Regions from separate parts of the Homo sapiens genome. Here region 1 is linked to region 2. Evidence: fine-mapped expression QTL. A gene starts in region 2. The other region holds a variant in brackets. All regions are shown on one strand. Distances are between the middles of the regions. Region 1 has its middle 95 kb from the start of PTDSS1. Region 2 holds the start of UQCRB (ubiquinol-cytochrome c reductase binding protein).

What was found. PIP is the estimated chance that this variant, and not a neighbour inherited with it, causes the effect. A credible set is the group of variants that fine-mapping cannot tell apart.
Region 1: its variant is the best candidate, but not a certain one, in a credible set for the expression of UQCRB in thyroid (GTEx, PIP 0.88).

What each region holds. Positions count from the first base shown.
Region 1 is chr8:96,354,057-96,359,437 of GRCh38, forward strand. No RefSeq gene overlaps it. Among named protein-coding and RNA genes, the nearest start is that of PTDSS1, 95 kb to the left of the region's middle. The variant C/T (reference allele first, on the strand shown) is at 2,911.
Region 2 is chr8:96,233,298-96,238,678 of GRCh38, forward strand. It overlaps UQCRB (ubiquinol-cytochrome c reductase binding protein), which reads right to left and starts at 2,248. Exons shown (of 4, transcript NM_006294.5): 1 at 2,215-2,248. The coding sequence starts at 2,233. It overlaps UQCRB-AS1 (UQCRB antisense RNA 1), which reads left to right and starts at 1,996. Exons shown (of 2, transcript NR_183275.1): 1 at 1,996-2,264; 2 at 4,610-5,381. RefSeq lists an enhancer at 1,975-2,254.

The DNA.
Region 1 (5,381 bases), 120 kb after region 2:
CTCATCAAAGCGTTTTCTCTGAAGAACTATTTGATGTCCAAGGAGACTGTAGAGACTTTTTTCCTTTTAACAAGACTTTGTTCTTAGAAATAAAGAAGCTGCTGAAGTTGTATATGCAAAGGATAAATGAACTTGAACCCCAGAAAGGTTAAACTTTGTTTCAAGTAGGTTCTGTATTCTGAAGAAACAACTTTGGGAATGAGCTCTTTTTCAAGTTTTGTTTTTTGGTAGGGGAGGGGAAGGGGCCTCCACTTGGATGCTTGAATTTTTTATGCCAAAAGAATTCCCCCTTCAATGGATGGTAGGCACTATTAGGGAATCAAGTCCATCTCCTCAAGGCACTCTGAGACGGTCTTCAACTTTTAGTCAGCAGAGACCACACTTAATATTGATCTCTATCTGGTAATTCACGGCAAAATCTGCACAGAGGGAGATGCATCCTTCTGAGAGTCCAGCATGTGTGTTGGGAAGAACAGAGCCCACTGATGAGAGAAGTGCCATGAAACCATCGGCTGGGCCACCTCACCTGTCCTCTAAGCAAGACCACACCCAAGCCAGCTCAGATAAAGTGAGCTAATAATTAACTTCTTTCATCCCCCACACTCTGAGATTTCTTCCTGAATTTGTGAACATTTGTCTCTATCCTTCACTCATGTCACATTTCATTGCCTGTCTCCTAGTATAGCAGTGACCTGGGGCTATAGGGGATGGGAAGAGGTGCAAGATGCTGTTCTTGTCCCTGAGAGGTTCATCATTTATTTCACTGAGATACAAAAACCCAACTGAGAAGATCATCAGATGTGCTCTTGGTGAGTGTTCGGGACTTCCAAGAAGGGAAGGATGGCCAGGGAGTGACAAAATGGGAAAAGCTTCCCAGACCAGGTGGGCCCTGGAGTTGTGAATGACAGCCTGAGCATTGATGCAGCCATATCCAGGAGAAGACACTAGGCACCCAGGGCTGGCATGCATCGGACACTCCTTCAAATTGATGTGTTAAAAATCTTTGCTTGAATTTCACCTGCTAGAGAGACTGAGGCTGAGTGCAGAGGGCATGCAGGACTGAGGGGCCAGGGCGGACAGTCTCTATGGCCTCTGCAGTTCCCAAACACATCCACCCCACCCGCAAAACCAGAGCTGTACAGTCAGTTACCTGCTGGCTCAGTGCCCATCAGTTATTACTTCTCATGGCCCTCGGGAACTTTACAGTCCACCGAAAGTGCTGTTTTTGTTTTCTAGTAAATACATATTTTTTTGTCTTAGTCCATATCTAGTGAAATGAGGTCTTAGCTCCCCTTATGGTCTGTTATGGGATAACTGTCTGACTGAGATGACAGGAAATTTGTGCAAATATTTGGCTCAATGTGTAGAGAGAAGGAACAATGCTGAAGAAGAGAAAACATGGTCTAGGGACCCAGCAGTGGCTGTTTCTCCTACAAGCCAGCCTAGTCCTTGGTGTCTTACAAGCACATTCTTAATTATCTATAACAGCACCACAGAGCACATATGGTGAAGCCTATTTTATAGAGGAAGAAGGAGGTACATAGAGGCTAACTCATTTACCCAGAGGCAGCTAATAAGGAGTGAAGTTTGGATAGGAACTCATGTTTCAGGGCGGGCGCACTGGCTCACGCCTGTAACCACAGAGCTTTGGGAGGTGGAGGCAGGAGGATCACTTGAAGCCCAAGGAGTCTGAGACCAGCCTGGGTAATATAGCAAGACCTCATCGCTACAGAAAAAAAAATTAGCCGGGCATGGTGGCTCATGCCTAATAGTCCCAGCTACCTGGGGAGGCTGCGGTGGGAAGATGGCTTGAGCCCAGGAGTTCAAGGCTACAGTGAGCTGTGATCATACCACTCCACTCCAGCCTGGGTGACAGGGCGAGACCCTGTCTCTAAAAAAAGGAAAAGAAAAAAAGAAACCCATATTTCAGTCCGTGACAGACCGCATATACAATGGTGGTCCCATAAGATTATAATGGAGCTGCCCTATACAGATGTACCATTAAAACATTTTTATCCCATATTTTTACTGCACCTTTTCTATGTGTAGGTGTGCTTAGATACACAAACACTTACCATTGTGTTGTAGTTGTCTATAGCATTCAGTATGATAACATGCTGTACAGGCTTTTAGCGTAGGAGCCATAGGCTATTCCACATGGCCTGGGTGTGTAGTAGGCTATACCACCCAAGTTTGTATACATTCACTCTATGATGTTTCGCACAATGGCAAAATCGCCTAAAGACACATTTCTCAGAACATATCCCATCATTCAGCAGCTCATGACTGTGCAGGGCTAGGTCAATACAGGATAGCTCTTGCTGATCCTAGCCTGAGTTTGTCCACTAGGCTATGCTGCCTCTCACTCAGATGAAAGGGAAGAGCTCTTGGTGGAGACTTCTGGAGGACTGTAAAGGAACATTGGGCCTGACTGCAAAGAACTGAATGCTGACCTCATGCTTCCCAGTTTTCATGGGCTGTGATGAACAGGATGGAGTGGCGGTGGCAGACTAGAGTGAGGAAGAGCAATGAGGGGCCACTGAGAAACCTGCAGATCCAAGGGAGAGGCAGGGAAGCTGGAAGCAGGGGAAATGGGAGGCCATGAGCAAAGAGAGAAGAGGCTTTGGTGATTCTGCCTTATGTAAGGGTCGGGGTGGGGTTGGAGAAAACACTGGTGACAGTGAAACTAAGATGTCAAGGAAAGGCATGGGTTTACAGGGAAAAGGGCTGAGTCTGTTGTATTTGAAGTTCTGGAGAAACTTCAGCATCTAGCCTTCTGGTCTGTGCTGGAGAGTGGTTACTGCTGGACCAGAGGACTCCCCTCACGTTGAGTTACTGAAAGCCATGGTGGGAACCGCGGATGGATGAGACCACCGGGCAGAAAAGCCGAGCAGCTCCTGAACAGTGAAC[C/T]TTTGGGATCACCACACTGTGTTTCTCACAATTCAGTATCGCTGCTTCTCAGTGGAGGCTCTGCTGCCTCCATGGGAGAGCACTGGAAAATAGAGGGGATGCTTTTGATTGTCCCAGTGGTTGAAGGATGGTATAGGCCTTCGATAGATATACAGTGACACAGGGAAACAAGATGTTCTGCAATGCACAGGGCAGCTCTGCAAAGTGAAAAATTTCTCTGGGGTCCTCTTGATTTGTAAATATCTCATTGGGCTTTCATTTAGGTGAAAAATCTATTTTGAAGTCTCTTAGCCCAGAACCTAATTACAGTTTCCATATATACCTATATATTTTACTTCATTTAAATTTACATGCATTTTTGTAAGAATGTAACCATATAAATAGAGAGAAAATTGTACTTTGTTTTGTTGGAATTTTACTGAGCTGTTTCATTTCAGGACATCATGTTTCTGCTGGCAACATCACTCCTAAAATTTGAGTTACTACTCTGCATTGATACCTATCCCATTAGTGGTGATTTTACATATTCATTGAAGCATCTGATTATTTTGTATTAAGTGGTCATGTCTAACAGTAAATTAAAATATATTTTTTCTCTATAGATTCCTTTCATTTATTCTATATACTTACAGTTAGGTTATTATATTGTTCTTTTTTAAAAATTATGTGTGCATATGAGTTATTTTATCTATACAGTTTATTTCAGGAGAGTGAAGAGAGTGTTACAAATTCATTGTGGTAAGGAGGGGTTGGAACTGATGAGGTTGAGAACCGCTAGTTCTAAACTAGCACTATCCAGTAGAAATATAATAGGAACCACAAATACATTTTACATTTTCTAATAGTCACCCTAAAAAAAAAAGGATGGAATATTACTCAGCCTTAAAAAGAAAGTAAATCCTATCACATGATATGACATGGCTGAAGCTTGCGGACATTATGGTAAGTGAAAGAAGTCAGTCACAAAAAGACAAATACTGTATGATTCCACTTATATGAGGTATCTAAAATATCTAAATTCCTAGAAACAAGAAGTGGAATGTTGGTTGCCAGAGCTGAAGAGAGAGGCATATGGGGAGTTTTTTAATGGGTATAGAGTTTCAGAGTTGCAGGATGAAGAAGTTCTGGAGATCTGTTTCACCACAATGTGAACATATTTAACACTACTGAACTGTACACTTAAAAGTGGTTAAGAGGGTAAATTTTATGTTAGTGTTTTTTACTATAATAAGAAAAGAAGAGCGGGCAATACTAATTTTCATAACATGTATTTATTTAACTCAATATATTCAAAATACTATCATTTCAATATGTAATCAATATAAAAATTATCAATGAGATATTTTATATTCTCTTTCTTGCACAAAGTCTGAATTCTATGTCCATTTTACACCTACAGCACATATCAACCAAGACTGGCTGCATTTCCAGTGCTCAAATGCCATACATGGCTAGTAGTTAACGGCAAATGCTAACTACACTTGTTGAGCAGACCTTCAGCACCAGGCACTGCTGTGGGTCCTTTACATAGAATTACTCTTCCCATCCTTGGCCCTATGAGATAGGCACCAGGAAATTGAAGCACAGAGACCTTGAATAGCACACTTAATGTCAAGAGAAATTGTGGCCAAGTGGAGAGCTGAGCCTAGGCATTCTGGCTCCAGAGCCCGTGCCTTAATCACTGTGCATAGGCACCCTTGTGGGGTTTTTCTCCTGGACTCCTGTTCTGGCCAAGTGGGAGTCCACCCAGCCTCTTTTCCCAGTGGGATACTAGGATTGTGCTTCCCTGGGCTTGCTCTTCCATGGGCTCACATATTCCATGGAAGCACACTCCTAGCATCTCCCTGGGAAACTGAACCCTGGCTGCACAGGCTTTAGGGAGTCAAAATCTGGCTGGCCCCCAGGGAGCCAGTTAGGCTTGTCTCTCCCTGCTTTCCTGCTAAGCATAGCAGACGCTGGCCAGCCCGTCTGCACGGAAGAAAGAAGCCTGGGTTTGCTTCACAACCGCCTTCAATGTTCTCTATTCTCTGCATTCCCATTAGGAGAGGTAGTGGGCCTGGTGAATCAAGACAAAACACACAGATGTGGCAGAAAGACGGTCCCAACATGCACATCTAATAACGACTTGCCACCAGGACCTTGCTGGTGAATCACTTGCATTTCCAATAACTTTTTCTCCTGAGTTTCCCTTAATAAAGACAGATTTCTTCATTTCCTGGGGCTCCCTCAAGATTATACTGACAACTTCTCCATTAATTATCAAATTATGCCCCATCACAAAATGATTACATCTGCTTCCTACCTAAACACTTCCCCTCATTTGTGAAAAGTCTCATTTAAACTAATATGCTTTTAACTTGCTCAATTTCAACACCTCCATAGAGGCTACTAATGAGCTGATTCCTTGCCCAGCTGGTCCCTTGGCCCTTCCTTGTGTTCTCCGTTCCAAGACCAATTTAGATCTTGCAGTA
Region 2 (5,381 bases):
CAGTACTCAGTTATCTTGCTGATGAATGCAAACATAGAAATAAATTTCCTTTTAAAAGTATATAGTATATACAGCAAGAATTTAATCAAAAGAATTAGATTTAAAAGAAAAAAGTTTATACTCTATAAAATGTTGATAAAAAGTGCTTATTTTATTTATGAGCAAAAGTGGTTGCAGGAAAATGGTGGCAAGTCATGAAAGAAAAGGGTAAACTCAAACACTGAATGTACAAAAGATCCATAGGTACATCGTGTGCCCTTATGCCTGCCCTGTTACCTTCAGAAATGAAGGGGTGGGAGATAGGAAAAGGACTTGGAAATTTCCATCATTTGTAGTTTCATAAATAGATCACAGGAAATAATTGTAAACTTTTCATTTCAAGAGAGCTGGAGTTGTAGGGAAAAGACAGTGAGATTTCAGCATAGACTGGCAGGTCTAAATGACCCTCATCCTCTAAAATTTTTACTCGATATTACAGTTATTTCATTTGGCCACATTCTTTAAAAATGTATGTATTTTGGGGAGGATTTTGATACCATTAGTCATTTAAACATTAATATGGATTCGTAAAAGAAGTCCATTTACCTCCTCCTAAGCAACTAAGTTCCCCCCAAGGGAATGGATATTGAAAAAGGATGAGAAATAGGTAATTTTAAAACTGTTTGGGGAACAGGGCTGAGCCTGATGAAGTAACCCAGCAGGGTCCAAGTACAGCAGGACCGTATCTGACATTTTAGGAGAGACATTTTACAAAAGGAGAGGTAGAACAGGTTTGTATTCTCTTTTAAAATTTTGTCTAGGGTTAGCCCTTACCAAGGAAGGAAAGCAAACTCTCCTTTCACTCAACTCTCCTTGCTTGCAAACTCAGTGCACTACAGATTACGTGGCTTTAGCAAATCTCCTTGGAAATTAAGAGTCATGTATAAAACTGCTGCTAGAAAAACAAGTATCAGTCAACAATCTACAAACATACTTGTGGAAGACAGATTATATTCAACCACCTATCAGTGACTATAATAATATTCACTAAGCACTTATTGTGCACCAAACACTTTCCTATTTGCTTTACCAACATTAGCTGATTTATTTACATGTCTGTTACTACAGAAGGGGAAGCTGGCTTACAGAAGTGATCCCACCCAAGGTCAGAGTTAGCTAATGGGAGTTGAGATCTGGTCTATGTAGTTCCCAAACACGCACAGAAGCAGTGTCTTGAATTTAGTAAGACTCCTTCAATATCTGCCAAATTAATAAAATAATTATTTAAAAAGTCTCCCCCACCCCCAAAAAGCTCAATGTCAATTAGGTTAACGGATGTTTCTGGCAACCTGATGTTTCCTAACAGCTTCACAATTGCTGGGGGCGGGGAGAAAAGGATCAACATTTTTTAAGCTACTCCAACTTGGTTGCATTGCAGTGAGACGAGATTGTGCCATTGCACTCCAGCCTGGGCGACAAAGCAAGACTCCGTCTCAAAGACAAAACAAACAAACAAACAAAACGGCTACTCCAACTTGTACCGCCAGAGGGCAGAGATTAGCAAAAAAAAAAAAAAAGAAAGAAAAAAGAAAAAAAGAACCTACAATAAATTCAAATTTCTCCAAACCTACTGATCAAGCTGACGCTCTAGATAATCCAAGGTCAACCTGAAGCGTCGCTCGTATCCCTTGCTCAACTGTCTCTGATTCGCAGTTTGAGAAGCGCGAGGGGTGCAATGATATTTCCAATTCTACTTCCTTGGGTCACTTTGCCTCAGTTATCTTATCAGCGTAAAAGGGAAATTAATATCTCCCTCGTCGCAATGGCAAGAAAATTTATAGGGCCAATGCACACGATAGAGCACTTGGGTCATAGAAAGCACTGAGCTCATTCGGGTTGAAAGTCATCCACTAGTTATCCTCTTGTGCCCTTTAACTTTTCTAAGGCCAAGGGGAAGGACTTCCAAGCACGGGCAGCTGGAACTCCAGGGCTGTCAGAGCCACCGCGGGCACCTTCACAAACAGCGGGTTAACATCCCAACCCTATACAGGCAAGCCCGCCCTGGGGACAGCAAACGAGTGGGGAAGCACATCCTTTTCACTGGACTGAAGCAGCCAATTTCCCTTCCGCGACAAACTTGGCCACTTACAAAGAAGAGAGAAAACGGAGCAAGCTGCAGCAAAAATAAACGGTGAAGCGCGACGATGCCGGCCAAGAAGACCCCCAGTTACTTACCGGCCTGCTTACCAGCCATTTTGACCAGAAAGAGAAGCGTTGCCTTCTGGGTAAGTCATAGAGGACAAGCTGGGCCCAGTCCGCAGGCGCGTTACGTCACATCGCGAACAGAGAAAGGCCGCTTGCGCAGGCGCAGTTCTGACGACTGCCGTTCAGCACCTGCGTAAGCACCTCTCGGCCAGGGTGAGGCCAATGGAGTAGGCGGGGCATTTTGCGTGCTACATTCTAAGAAGTATTGGTTGTGATGTGATGGGAAGAACACAGGTCAGGAATTAGGAGACCAAGGCTTAAAGCTGGGTTCTGTTATTTGCTGTTAATAGCTATGGGAGCGTGGACAGTATTAATTCAGCTCTTTGTGCCAGGCAGGAAGCTAAATGTTTTAAGGGCATCGTCTTACTTTCTATTGAAGGACTGATGGATGTGCCATCCCAAAAATATATGGAATTGGTACATTGATTATTTCGAGTTGAAAATATTGGAGAAATTGTAGTTTCAGAAAAGGTTTGATGACCTATCTCTTCCTGCATGCAGCAAGCCATAAAGCTTCCTCCAGGATTCCTCTGGAGTACCCGTCCCTTACCAGAGGGAGAAAATAGCACCTATCACCAGAGACGAAACTGGGGGCTGCTTTGGACCTGAATATACTTTCCGAAGTAACCGTTATCTTCCACTAAGTTTACACCCCAACACACACACTTTTCTCCTAATGACTCCGCGAGAAATTTACTGCCCCTAGCCAGATCCCCTTTCTTCTGATTTGTAGTTCGTGTAAAAAGTATAAAGGCATCTTACATTGGCCACTTCACTCTTTTGTGCGGATCCCCATGTACATGTAAAACTAGTAAAATTAGTATGCTTTTCTCTTGTTAATCTGCCATGTGTCAATTTGGTTCCTAGATTCAACCAAAGAGCCCACATAAGAGCAAAGGGGAGGGAGGGTTGGAGGTGATCTCTCACTCCCCTAAACTATCTTTTAATTCTAAAAGTACTGTAATTATCTCATTGTAGAGAGGAGAAAGCTGAGGCTCAGAAAGGTTGAATAACTTGTCCAAGAGCACATGACTAGAAGAGTCCAGGTTCTTCTTCCAGAATCTGAAAATCCAGATGCAAATTTGGGGCTCCTTAATTCTAGGGTCATATGCTATACTGCTACACTACTAATCCAGGAAAGACACCAAGCCTTTCAGGCCTTGGGTTTCTCCAGCTGAAGATCTATATCTAGCTATTTTAGTGGAAGGTTAGGTCAGAAAAGGTTTTGGGTTTTTTTTGTTTGTTTTTTTTCACCCTTTTTTTTGTTGTTCAGCCTCTGTCACCCAGGCTGAATGGCACAATCTCGGCTCACTGCAACCTCTGCCTCCTGGGTTCAAATGACTCGTGCCTCAGCCTCCTGAGTAGCTGGGACTACAGGTGTACACACTACCATGCCCGCTAATTTTTGTATTTTTAGTAGAGACGGGGTTTCACCGTGTTGGCCAGGCTGGTATCAAACTCTTGACCTCAAGTGATCCACCCACGTCAGCCTCCCAAAATGCTGGGTTACCCGCGTGAGCCATCATGCCCAGCAGAAAAGGTTTTTAAAGATTAAATCTAAGATGTATTGCAGAATTTGCACACAATTTTAAGACAAAAGAGAAGTATATAGATTTTCTCACTTTTAAGGTCTCAACCCCAACATGCGAAGTCTTAGGCATAAACATCTAGAGACAGAAAACAATTAGGGGGAGCTAGCATGACTGATAGTTACTGGTGAACTTCTACCATTACTCAGTGATATCTTTTTTTTCCCCTCAGTTTTAAGCTCAGAGCTGGGACAATATAGAGTAGAACCTTGTCTCATCCTAAGTTCAAAAGGTTAGATTTAACGATCTTAGTCACATTCCAGTTCTAAAATTATATTGATTTTCCTTTTTCTTCTATCTCCATGCTGTCACAATTTCTTCATTAGTCAGTCCTGTATACAGCACTAAAGCTGATGAATGATCTATCTTACACTAGCCAAAGTGAAGTCTGAAAGATGTGAAGAAATGCAGTACATTTGTACATTGGCACATTGCCCTGCAGAGGGTAGGTACTCAATAAACTCTCCTCCCTTCCACCCTTTAAGTTTTAGCTTGCTGGTTACAGGTGAAGGTGGCAAGAAAAGACATATCAAAAGATCTGAAACCCAAAATTGTCACAAAATCCAGCTCCTAAGGAATTAAGCTAGAGAGACTGAATGTTTGCTGGTAGTGATTGTTGATTCAAAAACTATTTTTGGTTTTCTTTCCTCCCAGCACAGGATTAGGGATTGCCTCTCTGCCCTATTAAAGTTAGGCATGGCCATGTGATACTTTGGCCAAGAAAAATGTGATAACTTTTTAAGAGCAATTCTTCACATTCCTTTCCTTTTCCATAGACTGGCAACACTCCAGAAATGATGGAGACAGGATACATCAACCTGTATCACTGAAGATGATGTGGAGCAGAGCCTTTGTGGTCCTAAGAAACATGTATAAGATAAAAACTTTTGTGGTTTTTCAATCATTTGAGGTTTTAGGATTGTTCATTGTATCAACACAACTTGCCTATTCTGACTGCTAAGGTTGTTCACTGGGTTATTCATAAAGGCAAAATGAGGTTGTGAGCCACAGAAAGAGAGGACAGGATGGTTCCATGGTGTCCCCAGCTTATTTTTTATTGTTTCCTGTTTATTGATCTCATCCATTGGAGAACTCCATGAAAGCACATATCTATGCCACACTCACCACTGTATTATAGAACTCAAATGTCGGTTGCATGAATAAAATATGTAACAGGAAGGCCACTATACCTGGCCCTGACCAATTACAAATTTAGTTTTTCATGAGGTTTTTTAAAGGGCATCCAGCACACCACAGAACCCTGTGCACAACAAACTACCCCCAAAGTTAGCGGCTTAAAACACTTTCTCCCAATTCTGAATTCCGCTGGGTCGTTCTGCTTAGTGTAGTATCTACTAAGTCTGGGACATCCCAGATAATTTCTTCATGCATGTCTGGTGCTCAGTTGGCATGTCTGAAAAAGCTGGGTTTGGCCAGACATCTTTCTGTCCACCTAGTTTCTCCAGCAGAGTAACCAGACCTCTCTACACAGTAGCTTAGGGTGCCAAGAGCAAATGTTCCAAGAGGGCAAGCCCTGATGTGCAAATC